Homo sapiens: one gene and its partner. The protein of the gene in region 1 purifies or fractionates together with the protein of each later gene. This does not show direct contact. Each region holds a gene or a part of one and is shown in the gene's direction. Other genes may lie near its edges. The genes, in order: SNAI3 and TJP2.

What was found.
Region 2: the proteins of SNAI3 (region 1) and TJP2 purify together in Homo sapiens (affinity purification with mass spectrometry; 3 studies listed by BioGRID and IntAct, with this or other methods). This does not show direct contact.

Annotation. Positions count from the first base shown.
Region 1 is NC_000016.10:88,682,778-88,691,305, reverse strand, and holds the start of SNAI3 (zinc finger protein SNAI3), read left to right. Parts: upstream 1-4,798; 5' UTR 4,799-4,899; coding exon 4,900-4,975; intron 4,976-8,528. UniProt on the Homo sapiens protein: Seems to inhibit myoblast differentiation. Transcriptional repressor of E-box-dependent transactivation of downstream myogenic bHLHs genes. Binds preferentially to the canonical E-box sequences 5'-CAGGTG-3' and 5'-CACCTG-3'.
Region 2 is NC_000009.12:69,232,419-69,240,782, forward strand, and holds part of TJP2 (tight junction protein 2), read left to right. Parts: intron 1-2,020; coding exon 2,021-2,129; intron 2,130-3,609; coding exon 3,610-3,820; intron 3,821-4,530; coding exon 4,531-4,718; intron 4,719-5,459; coding exon 5,460-5,555; intron 5,556-6,291; coding exon 6,292-6,371; intron 6,372-7,518; coding exon 7,519-7,729; intron 7,730-8,364. UniProt on the Homo sapiens protein: Plays a role in tight junctions and adherens junctions. Acts as a positive regulator of RANKL-induced osteoclast differentiation, potentially via mediating downstream transcriptional activity.

The DNA of each region.
Region 1 (8,528 bases):
GGACGATGCCGGGGACCCCACAGATCCCTCTCCTGGTGCCCGGGACTTACCCGCTGATGCCCAGCCTCCATGTCACCTCAGAGCAGCTACTGCGACTTCCCACACGCATACGCCCATGGACACACGCACGAACACGCCTGTGGCCTGCAGACTCACACGCACGCTGCCTCGCTGCTTGATGGCTCAAGTCTCACCTCATCTGCCGCAGGCCCAAGGGCTCCCCTCAGCACCGGTCACTCTCCCTTGCCTGTGCTGAGGCATTGTGCAGTTTCATGTGTCTTACGGTTGGTGTGGGTAGGGACTGTTCTAACGGGCAGCACAGCCAAGCCTGCAGCCTGGGCACCAGGAGGACACCACGCTCAACCGCCCATGTCAGGGGCCAGAGATGAGCACTTAGGGGCGTATCTCCCACCCAGGAGCCTGGGCTGCCCGCACTCCCTGCACTTCCTTTAATCAGACCATTCAGGCATTTGCTTGTGAACCTGCAGTGACCACTCCCCATTCCCTGTGCATACGGCCCGTTACCACACACTGTCTTCTCTCTGCCTGACTCTTCACTTCTGCCCTGTGGGATCTGGGGACGGAGGATGGCCCTTCCCACTCCTGGCGCCCTCCCTGCCCAGGACCTGTGAGTAGTAAGTCTTTGAACATGTTTCCTACTGCAGTGGGGACTGAATTTGCACCTTCCACAAGGAAGAACCAGGGGCTGCCCAGGCTGGGTTTTCTCGGGGACGTGGGGGACAGAGGGCAGGCTCCCAACACCAGAGCGATGGTCAGGCAGGCATAACCTGGACGTGAATCAGACAGGAGCCACGGGGCGTCTGCCAGTGTGAGCAAGTTTCCTGGGGGGACTCATGGTTGCAGGTCAGACAACTAGGCATTAGGCCATCTGCCAGGCAAACGACACATCCCGGGAAAGGCACACGGCAAATACCATGTCCATCCCCTTCATCTCCCAAGAGCACAGGGCTGCCAGCCACCTGGCACTGGCACTGAAAGCCACTTTCGCTGGGGGCTCTGAAAACAACCCTGTCTGCCTCTCAGAACCCCCATATCACACAGGATGTGTCCACTGAACCCCAGCTTAAGAACCACCCTTCCTGGCCAGGTGCGGTGGCTCACGCCTGTAATCCCAGCACTTTGGGAGGCCAAGGCAGGTGGATCACCTGAAGTCAGGAGTTGGAGACCAGCCTGGCCAACATGGTGAAATCTTGTCTCTACTAAAAATACAAAAATTAGCCAGGCATGGTGGCACATGCCTGTAATCCGAGCTACTTGGGAGGCTGAGGCAGGAGAATCACTTGAACCCAGGAGGTGGAGGTTACGGTGAGCAAAGATCACGCCACTGCACTCCAGTCTGGGTGACAGAGTGAGACTCCGTCTTAAAAACAAAAAAAAAAACAAAAAAACAAAAAACCACCCTCCCTCTGACAATCCGGCCCTCAGACGGTGGTGTGGGCAGCCATAAACAGTAGTGAGTTCCCCTTCACGGAGGGGGACCAAGCACACAGTGGCGCCCGGTCTGGCTGGATGTTGAGATTTCAAGCACTGGGTTCAAGTTTCCATGGGCCCATGACCTTGGGCCGCATGGGATTGTCCCTCGATGTCTGCCTCCGCATGGGATGTCTGCCTCGATGAACTGCCTTTGCTCCTACAAGAGGGGCCATCTCTCTGAGTCCAAGGACAAGCAAGGCCCAGCTGCCAGACTCTCCTTTGAGGGCCTGGGTCTTCACCTGAGTGTCTCCACTCGAGACAGACAGGGCCTACGTGCCCCCAGAGCATGGGGCAGGGCCTCTAGAAAGGCCACACTGTCTGCAAGCTCCTGCTTCTCTTCCATCCAGTTCAACAAGCCCTGCTGAACCCCCAGCATGCACCTGACCACAGGCGGGCATTGTGCAGGTAGCAAGGGCTGAGCCCCTCCTGGTCTAGCTCTCAAGGACTGTGTTCTAATTCGGAGTGAGGGTTTCCAAGGTTTGGGTCATAAAGCCCTATGAGTAAAAAACGAGCAGTGGCTCCCGCCTGTAATCCCAGCACTTTGGGAGGCCAAGGCAGGAGGATCACTTGAGATCAGGAGTTCAAGACTAGCCTAGCCAACATGGTGAAACCCAGTCTCTAGTAAAAATACAAAAATTAGCCTGGCATGGTGGTGCACACGTGTAATCCCAGCTACTTGGGAGGCTGAGGCAGGAGAATTGCTTGAACCTGGGAGGCGGAGGTTGGAGTGAGACTCCATCTTAAAACAAACAACAGTCAATGGTGACAGAGATGTCTACCGTGTTGGATACCTGTGTGCACATCTCCAGACACTATGGTTACAGTCACTGTAAAACCAGAAAGGCAGGAAGACATACGTGTAGGAAGGATGAAAATGTCAACATAAATGGAACTCTAACCGTTTTTGCCCTGACCGGCAATTCTTGGGGTGGGCTACCCACTGGAAAACCGCTCTTGGGTGTCGGATGGAGGCAGATGGGAGGGGCCAGGCTGCCGGGCCCAGCACAAGTCATCATCCTGATGTCCTAGATGTCCAGGGAAGGGGGCAAGGACCTGGGTCGCCTGCTGCAGTTCAGGAGGGCGGGTCTAGCAGGCTGTGGGCCGTGGGTTTCCCCACTCAGGGGCACGTCAGTTTAACCCCCAGAGCCAAGCTGCCGGCAGTGAGGAACGGAAGACACGGAAAGGATGGAGACGGCCGCCCTCCCCCAATCCCCACCCCCGAGGCTGCACCTGTGGGAAGGGGGACGCTGATGTTTCCCTCTGTGGGGCCTTCTTGGGTCCAGCCTGGACACCGCCCTGTGCATCACAGCTGAAGAGTGAGTCTGCAGCCGACTTGAGTGTCCCTGGGGGGCAAGTTGTTGCGGCAGCCCTGGGACCCCACCCCAAAGGTGCTCGCAGGCCCTCTAGGGCGTTCCCGGGATGAGATCAGCCATTCTCCTCGGGAGGGCTACAGCAGCCCTGAGTAACACCAGGCTCTAGCTGGGATTAGGAGATAAGCTTGCTGGGGCTTGGCGGGTGGCCACACAACGGGTAGGTGGGCGGGGAGGGACGGTGTGGGTGGAGGCTTGGCTCAGGTATCTGCAAGCGTTATCTGTGTCTGCGAGGGAGAGAGAGAAGGAAGGGAGGCTATAAATAGAAACCTTTCCAGGCGAGGAACAGGTGAATAAGCAGAAGGCAGGCATGTGTCCTCTGAAATCTACACTCCCGGCGTGGTGGTGCCAGGCCATGCTTGCAGGAGAGGCGGGCACCTTCTTCCAGGGGCACCTCCACCTGTCCTTCCACTCCCCCTCACCAAGTGGCAGACAAGCTGGAGTGTGGCTGGGTCCCAATCCCACTGTGTCCTAACCTCTCACAGCCTTGGTCTTCTTTTTTGTTTTTTTTTAATTTTTTGAGACAGGGTCTTGCTCTGTTGTCCAGACTGGAGTGCAGTGGGGTCATCATAGCTCACAGCAGCCTCCACCTCCTGGAGGCTACTGCAACAAGCAATCCTCCCTCCTCAGCGTCCTGAGTAGCTGGGACTGAAGATGGGTGTTGCCACGCCTGGCTAATTAAAATAATTTTTTTTTTTTTTTTTGTAGAGACGGGGTCTCATGTTGTTTTTCAGGCTGGTCTCAAACTCCTGGGCTCAAGCAGTCCTCTTGTCTCAGCCTCCCACAGTGCTGGGATTACAGGCGTGAGCTGCTGAGCCCAGACTCACAGCCTAGTTTTTTTTCATTGGCAAAGTGGGGCTGATACTAGCCCAGCTTTTCACACCCTGGACGTGTGATGTGGGACGTGGGATGCTGGTGTGGCACGGCCCTCCTCCCTGCTGTCTGTCCCTCAGAGCTTCCATGGACTCACCACCCCCCACCTTCTCCACCCCCGGCCCACAGGGGGCAAAGGCCACCCAGCTCTGAGGTGGAAGCCCTGCTGGGGAGGCAGGCCGGCGGCACAGCCAGGGACACCCTGTGTGCACGCCAGCCCAGAGACGGCCCCACCTGGCCCCCAACGTTATGAAATGTCCATGTCAAAAGAGACCCAGACACTGGACACAGCGGCTCCCAGCTTTTTATGACCCTGAGGGCTCTACAGGACCACAAAGGAGGGAAACGGATTGCCCAGGTCACACGTGCAGCTGTTGCAGAATTCACGTGATTCACCGGTTTTATTAAACTTCCCATAACCATGTCTGACCCCCTGGGAATTCCAGAATTCCAGGCCAAGTCCTCCGTCCCCCAAAAAACAGCTTTCTGGAGGCACTGGACAAACTCCTAAAGGGCTGACTCCAGTGGGGGAAGCCTTCGGAGACTGCAGCCCATCCAGAAAGGACCACTGTCTCCAGGCCACCGGTCCCGGGCCTGTTCCAGAGCCGCCAGTAGGGCTGGTCACTAGGGTCAGCTTCGTTTCGCCTGGGCTCTCCCCATCAATCCTGTCCTGTGAGTTTGCAGAAGGGATGGGGAGGCGAGGCCAGGCCGCAGAGTGAGCGTCATTCTCCGCAGCAAGGGTTCTCCAAGGACCGCGCTCGGCCGACGCTTCCACATTCTGTGGAAGAGATTCTCGCTCGGTTTCCACACAGCTTTGAACTCTGCCCTTCACTCACGGCGAGTGGGTGGCCAGGCCCGACGGGTCGGTGTGTGACTCGGCGGCGCGCACGCCAGAGAATTCCCGTGGGGAGGACACCGGCGGCCACGCGCTCCCCGCCCCGTCCCGCCCGCGCACCTGTCCTGGGCGTGTTGCCCGAGACCCCGCCTCGCCCTCAGTTCCGCCCCCGTGGCCCCGCCCCACTCGCGCCGGGCGCTGGTTGGCGGAGGCGGCGCGCTATGCTAATGAGCCTGACCCCTTCAAGCGCCGGCGGACGCAGCAGTCCGGACCCAGGCGCGCCCCTCCCGCCCCAGCCCACCCCGGCCTGCCGCCCGGGAGGGGAACATGCCGCGCTCCTTCCTGGTGAAAACGCACTCCAGCCACAGGGTCCCCAACTACCGGCGGCTGGAGACGCAGAGAGGTACTGACTACCCGATCCCCGAGCCCCTGCCGGGACTCGACCCTGAGGGGCGGGAGAGAGAGAGAGGCCCCTGGGAGCGGGGGCTGGGGAGACACCTGTCCCAGGTGGGAGGAGAAGGAGCCAGCGCCTCTGCGCAGCGGCTGCGGCTGCAGGGAGGGAGGTGGCCCACGGGCGCCTCCACTTCAGGGCACTGAGCCCCGCCTCCGGCAGGGCGGGCGGGATTCTCTCCCAACTTGGAGAAGTTTTCTAAGTTTTCTAAGCCCCCAAGTCTCCCTGGAACTCACCCCTGATATACAGCCGCCCGTCCCAACCACTACAGCCCCAGCTAAAGGCACCCTGGAGTCATCTTCCTGGCGCACACGTTTGGGAGGGGTCGCGGGGTGGTGGGTGGGAGGGAAGGAGGGCCGTCTGGGGCGGCCCGGCTCAGGGACCCCCGGAGCATGCTGACTGGGGGTGTAAGCACAGGGGATGGTGAGAAGGACACATGGGCTCTTTCTGGTGCAAAGGCACTGCCCCTCCTGCATTCAGTTCAGGTGAGCCTCCGCCCGTGGTCTCCCTCCCTCCCCCACCTCCCTTCACCCCAGAAGCCCTCCTGCTCACCCCGGCAGGCTTGCCTGGGCAGGCTGGGCTAAAGGGCTGCAATCCTCCACACACCGGCTAGGCTGGGGAGATGGGTGCCCAGCAACCGGGCTGCCCGTTCATTCCCACTGCCTGCTAGGCTTAGGGACACGAGAGAAGAGGACTCTGTCCTTCAGAGGACAGCCTGCCACACGGGCGGTGAGAGCAGTCCCCACCTGGCTTGGCAGCTTCTTGGGACAAAGGCCCACTGAGGGGCGCCGGCGGACGCGGTGGTCGGGACTCACGCTCTGTGGCCGGTGGGGGAGAGCAGGAAGGGCGCTGTTGGGGCTGTGGCCCCCAGCAACACCGCCAAGAGGCCTTTATCCCAGCTCAGAACCCAGAGTTGGGGATGGGGGGGATCCCACCTGGACCCACACCCGAGGCCCGGGCTGCCACCAGGGGGTGCCAGCTAGGACCATGCTTTTCAAATGTGCATTTTGAAATCAGTTTCATCAGTCACCCCCAGCAATTTTGTAAAATAAAATAGAGCAGAAACTGCCGGAGTGCCTGGCTCATGGTGAAGGACACTGGCTTCTGTTATGTGTATGTGGATGCGCATGTGACTACACATGTGTGCGGAATTTACATGGGTAATAGTTGCAAGTTTCAAAGTGTTGCTTAGGGTCCATCCCAGTGTGCAAATCTGGGTAGCTGTGCTGGGCCCAGTGGGCAACTGTCGTGAGTAGCCGTGCTGCCCCGCAGTGCTCTCTGCTCCCCGCCCCCGCTCCCCTCCTCACTGTAGCCCCAGCTGCCTGGCTTTCTGACAGCCAGGGGGCCCTGGCAACTTTCTGCCAAGATGTTACCCCAGGATAGACCTGAGGTGCTGGGATTTGGGGCCCCTCAATCTCTCCTTTTAAATAAATGGCTCCTATGGCTCCCCAGGGAACCCCTGAAGCCAGCAAGGTACTTAAACAGTCTCTTCAGCTGGGTGTGGCGGCTCATGCCTGTAATCTCAGCACTTTGGGAGGTCGAGGACGGCAGATCACTTGAGGTCAGGAGTTCGAAACCAGCCAACATGGCGAAACCCCGTCCCTACTAAAAATACAGAAGTTACCCCGGTGTGCTGGCGGGTGCCTATAATCCCAGATACTCAGGAGGCTGAGGTAGGAGAATCACTTGAACCCGGGAGATGGAGGTTGCAGTGAGCCACGATCGCGCCCCTGCACTCCAACCTGGGCGACAGAGCGAGACTCTGTCTCAAAACAAAACAAAACAAAACAGTGTCTTCTCCCCAGGATCTGGACCGCAGCATGAATAAAAAGGCAAGCAAAACCCAGAGAGTATGGGGAAAGCATTTAAAATCCCAGCAGAAACACATGGTCAGCCTGACGGGGCGAGACTGTCTCTTGCCCCGTCCTGCCTCTGGGCTCAGCCACTGGGCCCACAAACAGGGTCCTGGCTCTGTGACAATACCTGGAGGCAGAAAGGTGGCCATGTCTTAGAGATGGAAAAAAGAAATGGTGACTTTTTCCTGCAGAGAGGCCCCAGCAAAGCCGGGAAACCTGGGGCTCCCCCAGTGCTGTCTCCCCAGAACTCTCTTGGACGCTGCCTCTTAGCCTGTCATTGCCGTCACTTCTGGGTGGACAGAAACCTGATGACTCTGTAATTAGGAAAACTGAGGGTGGGAGGAGGTCAGGTCAGGAGAGAGTGGCAGATGGGAGGCGTTCCTTTGAATCCCCTATTCCTCCTCATCCTCACAGCACTGGTTATTGTCAATTTTTTTCAGTTCTACTGGGTGTGAGCATCTCATTGTGATTGCGATTTGGGCTTCCCTGATGGCATTGAGCATCTTTGCATGTGTTCATTGGCCATTTGTGTATCGTCTTTGGAGAAATAGTTATTCAGATCCCTTGCCCAGGCCGGGCGCAGTGGCTCACACTTGTAATCCAGCACTTTGGGAGGCTGAGGTGGGCAGATCCCTTGAGGCCAGGAGTTTGAGACGAGTCTGGCCAATGTGGCAAAAACCCGCGTCTACTAAACATACAAAAATTAGCTGGGCATGGTGGCAGGTGTCTGTAATCCCAGCTATCAGGAGGCTGAGGCAGGAGAATTGTTTGAACCTGGGAGGCGGAGGTTGCAGTGAGCTGAGATCACGCCATTGCACTCCAGCCTGGGCGACAAGAGTGAGACTCCAGCTCAAAAAAAAAAAAAAAAAAAAAGGCCAGGCGCAGTGGCTTATGCCTGTAATCCCAGTACTTTGGGAGGCTGATGCAGGCGGATCACAAGGTCAAGAGTTCGAGACCAGCCTGGCCAACATGGTAAAACCCTGTCTCTACTAAGAATACAAAAATAAGCCAGGCGTGGTGGCGCATGCCTGTAATCCCAGCTACTTGGGAGGCTGAGGCAGGAGAATTGCTTGAACCAGGGAGGCAGAGGTTGCAATGAGCCCAGATCGTGCCATCGCACTCCAGCCTGGGTGACAGAGCGAGACTCCATCTGGGGGAAAAAAAAAATTAGCCAGGCATGGTGGCGCACACCTGTAGTCCCAGCTACTTGGGAGTCTGAGGCAGGAAAATCATTTGGACCTGGGAGGTGGAGGTTGCAGGTTGCAGTGAGCCGATTTCACGCCACTGCACTCCAGCCTGGGAGACAGAGCAAGACTCTGTCTCAAAAAAAAAAAAAAAAAAAGGGTGGGGGGCCAGGTGCGGTGGCTCACGCCTGTGATCCCAGCACTTTGGGAGGCCAAGGAGGGTGGATCACGAGGTCAGGAGATCGAGACCATTCTGGCTAACACAGTGAAATCCTGTCTCTACAAAAAAAATACAAAAAAATTAGCCGGGCGTGGTGGCAGGCGCCTGTACTCCCAGCTACGCAGGAGGCTGAGGCAGGAGAATCGCTTGAACCCAGGAGGTGGAGGTTACAGTGAACCGAGATCACGCCACTGCACTCCAGCCTGGCAACAGAGCGAGACTCCGTCTCTAAAAAAAAAAAAAAA
Region 2 (8,364 bases), on another chromosome or scaffold:
CAAAGAGGATATTTATTGGAAAGGACTGTTCAATGTAACCTTCAAGTAGAAAAGTGCTGCCCTAGCCTTTTTTCACTTTAATTTGTTTCAATGCTCCTTTTCATGGCCAAATTGAATATATAAAGTGAGCCTTATACACATGCTAATCACTTTATTCTGTTGTGGGGTTTTTAAGTGTGGCTCTTTGTTTTGCAAAGGTGACAGCCTAATGTGTGGAATGAAGACGTGAGCCAGATATGTATATTCCTTATCAATAATGGAGATATATGTGCTTTTGCTCATTCCTGCTTGGCTGAACTACCTCTTTGCTTGTTATTTATCTGATAGAGTTGTCATTTCTCTTTCAGAAACTTTTATGGGATGGAAAAGAGAAAAAAGACTTCTAAGTTTGGTTATTAACCATGTAGATTTTTAAAATATAACTACCATGTGTGCTTTAATTTTGACCATTATAGTTTTTGGCTATCGAAGACTGTGATCGAGACTGATCTAAGGTTAATCTCTTGTGGCCAGAGAGATGGACTGAAGGACTCCCAAGGTCCTCCCACAGCCTTGTGGCCCTGTCTTATTTAAGTAAACAAATACAAGCATGTATAGTACATGTGAAAATATACATATGGCTATATGTAGATACAGATGTAGATAAACAAATGGCACAAGAAAGGATACCAAAATGGGATGATTCCTAATTGGGGGACAGAGAGGTACAAATGACAGTACCTTAAATACTAAATACTGTTTCAAAGGAAAAATTAACTCAATTGCTTTAGCACATCACTTTATTTTAAAAGCACCAAATTAGTTTTAGTCTAATGCCGACTTTCACTTAATCATAAATTTTGGCCTTAATTAAGGCCCACCCAACTAAGGATAAGTTTCTTCTTTAATAAAGCATTACTCTTGTGATTAAAAGGATTCTGTAATTGTCAATGACTGAAGAAAATATTTCATAGGAATTTTATATCTTTATTTCTACAAAATATTATTAACATATCAGGTACTTTAATATGGTTTTTGCATTTTACTTATTTATAATTCTGTTTTAAAATAGGCTGAAAGATACAGAACTATGGGCCAGGCGTGGTGGCTCACGCATGTAATCCCAGCACTTTGGGAGGCCTAGGTGGGCGGATCACCTGAGGTCAAGAGTTCGAGACCAGCCTGGCCAACATGGTGAAACCTTGTCTCTACTGAAAATACAAAAAAAATTAGCTGGGTGTGGTGGCACATGCCTGTAGTCGCAGCTACTCAGGGAGGCTGAGGCAAAAGAATTGCTTGAACCCAGGAGGCGGAGGTTGCAGTGAGCCAAGATCGCGCCATTGCACTCCAGCCTGGGCGACAGAGGGAGACTACATCTCAAAAAAAAAAACCACATAGCACTATGATTTCAAAATGTCTTGTTCTTTGTGCTACATTTCAATTTTACTTGCTTTGTAACTGTAAGGCTGATGCTCTTTAATTTGATACATACCTTTCAATTTTATAAACACATGTTAAACACTTTTAGGTGATAGAAGCTATAGGAGAAGGGTAGAATTGGTCAGAGTCTTTATTTGCACACTTTTATTTGAACCAGTTTAAAATTAGTGTAAATGCTGGGCCAGCATGCTCAGTTGTCACAGACCCCAACACTCCCCATGCTTCATACTTGTGTATTACCTTCTTGGCCACCTCTGTGAGAGACTCACAGAAGGGAGATGGATAGAAACAACCACAAGAAATTCTATTGTGATCTGGTGACAGATCCTTGCTTCAATGGCTTAACCTCTAAGGTGCGGTTGGCAGTATGGGGAGGCAGGAAGGTATAGTGTGCAGGCCCATAGCAAGGTGCTGGGCGCGAGGACTTGAATAGTGACATTAAGGACTCATTTGCATCTTGGCTTTGCTCTGGACAGGCCCTGATGAAAACAAACAAAAGGGTCAGTGGCATCTTACTATAAACTTCTCTGTTTTTTCTTTCTTTCTTTCTTTCTTTCTTTCTTTTTTTTTTTTTTCTTTTTCTGTTTTTCCTTCCTAATAGGTGAACACACAGGATTTCAGAGGATTAGTGCGGGAGGATGCCGTTCTCTACCTGTTAGAAATCCCTAAAGGTGAAATGGTGACCATTTTAGCTCAGAGCCGAGCCGATGGTGAGCAAATTTGGTCATTTAGTTTAGTTGGGGTGGGGGTGGGGAGTGGGAAGGATGAGAGAGGTGTCTTGGTACCAGAATAGGCAAATCTGGGTATTAAAAAATTGAGATGGATCTCAACACCTAGTCCTTGGGCCCTAGGTGTGTGAAGAAAATGTGAGTGCCGTTTAACTTTCCATAAAAATGTTTTCTATGCATGCACTGAAATAATTTTACTAGTTGTGTCAATTTGGAATAAAACTGCCTTCCTGAACAGTGATGCAGCCTTATGTTCTGCCTGGAGTTATTAGTGAGTTTACATACGACATGTGCAAAGGCCATGGCTGCTGGCTGGTGCGCCTGTTACCCCTGTCCAGTCTGACAAGTTGTTTCACCTTTCCAGGCCTTGTTCCCATCTGTTAAGTGGGTGTTGAGAGTGTCCTCCTTGTCTGCTTCAGAGCTTGATTGGCAACTGTGTTAATGTTCTCCAGAGAAACAGAATGATAGGAGATATTGGAATCAATAGGAAAGAAAGAGATTTATTATAAAGAATTGGCTCACATAATTATGGAGACTGGCAAGTGCCAAGATCTGCAGTGAAAATGGGCAAGATAGAGACTCAGGAGAGCCAGTGATTTAGTTCTAGTCTCAGTCTGAAGGCCTGAGAACCAGGAGAGCCAATGGTGTAGTTCCAGTACCAAGTCAGGGAAAAGAGCTGATGTCGCCTTTTGAAGGCCATCAGGCAGGAAGAGTAGTTTCCTCCTAATTTTTTATTTATTTATTTATTTATTTATTTATTTATTATTATTTTTTTGAGACGGAGTCTGGCTTTGTCGCTGAGGCTGGAGTGCAGTGGAGCAATCTTGGCTCACTGCAAGCTCTGCCTCCCAGGTTCACCCCATTCTCCTGCCTCAGCCTCCCGAGTAGCTGGGACTACAGGCGCCCACCACCACGCCCGGCTAATTTTTTGTATTTTTAGTAGAGACGGGGTTTCACTGTGTTAGCCAGGATGGTCTCGATCTCCTGACCTTGTGATCCACCCACCTTGGCCTCCCAAAGTGCTGGGATTATAGGCATGAGCCACCACGCCCAGCCTAGTTTCCTCTTAATTGAGAAGGGGTCTGATTGTCATTCTCTTCAGGCCCTCAACTGATTGGATGAGGCCCACTCGCATTGGGGAGGGCGATCTTCTTTGCTCAGTCTACCCATTTATACGTGACTGTCATTCAAAAACACCCTCAGAGAAAGGCATAGAATAAAGTCTGACCAAATACCTGGTTATTTCATGGCCCAGTCAAGTTGAAATAAAATTAACCATTGCAGCAAGCCGTGAAGCTGGTTATTTGTCCTTGTTCCTGTTGGAGCTGTGACTCCCATAGGACTTGTGCACTGAATGGAAGGAAGGTAAAGGGGAGATCAGAGATAGGAGAAGCTGTGTTGAGTGTCTAGTACTGTAACTTGTACTAAGCTGAATGCAACAAACGATGCTTTTGTCTTTCAGTGTATAGAGACATCCTGGCTTGTGGCAGAGGGGATTCGTTTTTTATAAGAAGCCACTTTGAATGTGAGAAGGAAACTCCACAGAGCCTGGCCTTCACCAGAGGGGAGGTCTTCCGAGTGGTAGACACACTGTATGACGGCAAGCTGGGCAACTGGCTGGCTGTGAGGATTGGGAACGAGTTGGAGAAAGGCTTAATCCCCAACAAGAGCAGGTAACAGAGATCGCATTCTCACATACCCCTTTTAATCCTTCCCCCTGCAGAAAACTAGAGACCGCCCCCCTTCCCCCGTAAAAGGAAACCCCACATGATGAGTTCATTACTTGTCACCATCTATTTCTTGTTTATGGAGAGTGGCCTGAACTGTAAATAGCCACCAGCCAGTTTATTGTGAGTAAATTTAGCATCATGTGGTTGGTTGCTGAATGTGGCTGTTTGAACAACTTCCTAAGGAGCATCCACTGCCTTGTACCGTATACAAGAGATATACTGAATGGCCGTAGCACACCAGCACACCTCTTAGAGACAAGGTACCCTTGTCCGGTGCCCAGTCTCCATCCTTGGAGAGGTTTATGCACCCCAGTGAACACTTGGTGTTTGGCTGACAGTGCAGGAACCTAGAAAAGAGGCCTGTATTTGAGCAGGAGTTCCAGGTGTGTGTACTGTGTACCTGCATATCAGAATGGGCCAAATTTCACATGTTTATTGCTGAGCCACTTCTGGGAGATTTCACAGAGACCCAGCCTTTTTCTGCTCCCATTTGGAAGTGAAGGTCCCCACATTTCCCACCCTCTGAAACTTCTTCATTGTCAAGCGGAATCTTCTCTGAGCTCAGAAGTAAAATTGACTGGATTTGATTAATGAAATGCATGTTAGCTGCGTTTTCTGGCTTTAGAGATTTACTTCCCGTGGTTTCTTCTCAGAGCTGAACAAATGGCCAGTGTTCAAAATGCCCAGAGAGACAACGCTGGGGACCGGGCAGATTTCTGGAGAATGCGTGGCCAGAGGTCTGGGGTGAAGAAGAACCTGAGGAAAAGTCGGGAAGACCTCACAGCTGTTGTGTCTGTCAGCACCAAGTTCCCAGCTTATGAGAGGGTTTTGCTGCGAGAAGGTGAGGAAGTCACATGGGGCCTGGAAATGAACTGACTGGGCTCTGAGCCTGTTCACCTTTATTTTCAGACTGTATGGTCAAGTTCTAACTTATGTATGTCAGTTATGCCAAAGGCAGTTTATAGAGTTGAAATCAAATTCTAACAAGGAGCATGATTTATAAAAAGCTGTTTCAGTTCCTAAATTGAGGCTTATTTCTGCAACTTAAAAAATGTTTTAATACCACTGTTCAAGAGTTTCGGTATATTGGCTGGGCACTGTACCTTATGCCTATAATCGTAGCACTTTGGGAGGCCAAGGTGGGAGGATCACTTGAGCTCAGAAGTTCAAGACTAGCCTGGGCAATATAGTAAGACCTCATCTCTGCAAAAAATAAAAAAAGTTTCCATATATTATCAATGGGAAAGTTTGTGTTTAAAAATGGTGAGGAGCTAGGCAGTGTAGTCCCAGCTACTCAGGAGGCTTGAGCCTAGGAGTTTGAGTTTAGTCTGGGCAACATAGTGAGATCTTGTCTCTTAAAAAAAAATCTAGGTTAGCATGTGGTTGAATGAAAAGAAAAAAATTGTTTTAAATGGTGAGGATAGTGAAGGCATATTCTTCAGAACAGAGCCAAGCTGAATTGGGGAGAAACCACAGTTTCTTTCGTTTAGTTATGTTATCAAAAGCCCATACAATACTTTTACTGCTTATCATAACAGCTAGGCAAGTGTGTATGCTTTAATGGCCTTTCTTGTCATTTCAGCTGGTTTCAAGAGACCTGTGGTCTTATTCGGCCCCATAGCTGATATAGCAATGGAAAAATTGGCTAATGAGTTACCTGACTGGTTTCAAACTGCTAGTAAGTCTGTCAGTGTTTTTTTTTCCCCCAAATTTTTATTTTGAAAAATTTCTAACAGAGGAGTTGGAAGAATCATGAACACCCACGTACCCTTCACCTGGAATCACCAGTTGCTGACATTTTGTCACGCATTTTCTCTCACCCACTGCCTGCACCATAGACACACATACACACACACATACACATACTCTTTGAAAAATTTCTGCAGAATCATTTATAACACTTTATCCCTGAATACTTGTGTGAATCTCCTAAGAACAAGGACTTTCTCCCACATAACTGCAATACCATTATCACAGCCAAGAAAGGTAACATTGATGTGGTGTGATTTTGTATATAGTCCATTTTCCACGTTTTCTTAATTGTCCTAGTTATGTGCTTCATAGCTTTTTTTTAAATTCAGAATACAACCAAGGACCATTCATGACATTTGATTTTTATGTCTTTTTGTGATTTTTATGTCTTTCCAGTCCCCTCTTTTTTCTAAATAACTTTGTTACACTGATATTTTGAAGAATCCAAGCTAGTTGTCTCCTAGAATGCTTCCTGTTGGACTGGCCTAACCGTTTCTTCATGATTAGATTTCCACTAAGCAGGTTATGTGGGTCCTTCCCACTGAATCTTGTTAGGAGACACTTAATGTCAGGTGTGCCATCATTGCTTGATGCTAGGTGGGAGTATTTGGTTGTCACTGTTTTCTAAACAATTATTTAGCTTCCTGTTTTTGCTTTTGCAGAAACGGAACCAAAAGATGCAGGATCTGAGAAATCCACTGGAGTGGTCCGGTTAAATACCGTGAGGCAAATTATTGAACAGGTGAGAAAATTCATCCACAGACCGTGTTTTCAGAAAGAATTAGATTATGGTTTGCTGCAGTCACTTTTAGGATAGTATCTGTACTTTTAATCATTAAATGTTAATAATAAAAAATTGGCCGGGCACAGTGGCTTACACCTGTAATCCCAACACTTTGAGAGGCTGAGGCGGGTGGATCACCTGAGGTCAGGAGTTCGAGACCAGCCTGGCCAACATGGTGAAACCCTGTCTCTACTAAAAATATAAAAAATTAGCCGGGCACAGTGGCAGGTACCTGTAGTCCCAGCCACTCAGGAGGCTGAGGCAGGAGAATCGCTTGAACTCAGGAGGCGGAGTTTGCAGTGAGCGGAGATTGCACCATTGCACTCCAGCCTGGGCGACGAGTGAAACTCCATCTCAAAAAAATATATATATAATGTAAATGCAAACCGTTTCACTGTGTGGAAACCAGTCACTGTTGGCAGTGAGCGGAGATTGCACCATTGCACTCCAGCCTGGGCGACAAGAGTGAAACTCCATCTCAAAAAAATATATATATAATGTAAATGCAAACCATTTCACTGTGTGGAAACCAGTCACTGTTACTGTTCTCTGGCAGTAACATACTGTTTTTTTTTCCAGAGTTCCCAGCATTATACCAAATAATGTGTTAATTCATTTTATCAGAAGTTCTAACACATTGGTAATATTGAAGTGGGCATTAGGTAGAAGGAAATGTGTTCTGCTTCTTGATTTAAATTTACAAGATAGGTGGCTCATGCCTGTAATCCCAGCACTTTGGGAGGCAGAGGCGGGCGGATCACCTGAAGTCAGGAGTTTGGGACCAGCCTGGCCAACATGGTGAAACCCTGTCTCTACTAAAAATACAAAAATTAGCTGGCCATGGTGGTGGCGGGCACCTGTAATCCCAGCTACTCAGGAGGCTGAGACAGGATAATTGCTTGAACCCGGGAGGCGGAGGTCGCAGTGAGCCAAGTTTGTGCCACTGCACTCCAGCCTGGGCAACAGAGCAAGAATCTATCCCAAATAAGTAAACAAACAAACAAACAAGATATATCTCATACAGCCTTTACTTATTAAAACAAAGTATTTGATGCTATATTACTTTATATATCCATTTCTCTAACTTTTCCCCTTTTGTAAACAGGATAAGCATGCACTACTGGATGTGACTCCGAAAGCTGTGGACCTGTTGAATTACACCCAGTGGTTCCCAATTGTGATTTTTTTCAACCCAGACTCCAGACAAGGTGTCAAAACCATGAGACAAAGGTTAAATCCAACGTCCAACAAAAGTTCTCGAAAGTTATTTGATCAAGCCAACAAGCTTAAAAAAACGTGTGCACACCTTTTTACAGGTAAGTGAAATGTAAATGTAGTCCCTTTGCTAAAAAATGAGAAATAAAGAATTGAAGAGTAGAAGAAATAATTAATTAATCTGAATGGAGAATTTGAAATTGTGTTCATGACTCCTTGAAAAATAGTTAATCCTATAAAATGGGATATTAGGCCAATGGCATTTATATATTGAACTTTGTAATTTTGTCTATTTGAAAATGACCATAAAGATCCATGATGTGGTAATAATTAGCTATTTTGATGAAGTTCATATTTTCCTGTGAGACTATAAGGCTAGTGATTGAGCCAGGCCAAACACCTATGTCTCTCTAGAGATTGTGTCATTGTTCTCTACTCACCATCAATACATGCATTAACTTACAAAGCGAAAGGAACTTGGTTTCATTATTTAAAAATATTCCTGTCCAGCATGGTGGATAACACTTGTAATCCTCCCACTTTGGGAGGCCAAGGCAGGAGGATCACTTGAGCCCAGGGGTTGGAGACCAGCCTGAGCAACATGGTGAGATCCTGTCTCTACTAAAAGGCCTAGCATGGTGGTGCATGCCTATGGCTGAGGTTGGAGGATCGCTTGAGCCAGGAATTCAAAGCTGCAGTGAGCTGTGATGGCACTGCTGCACTCCTGCCTGGTGAC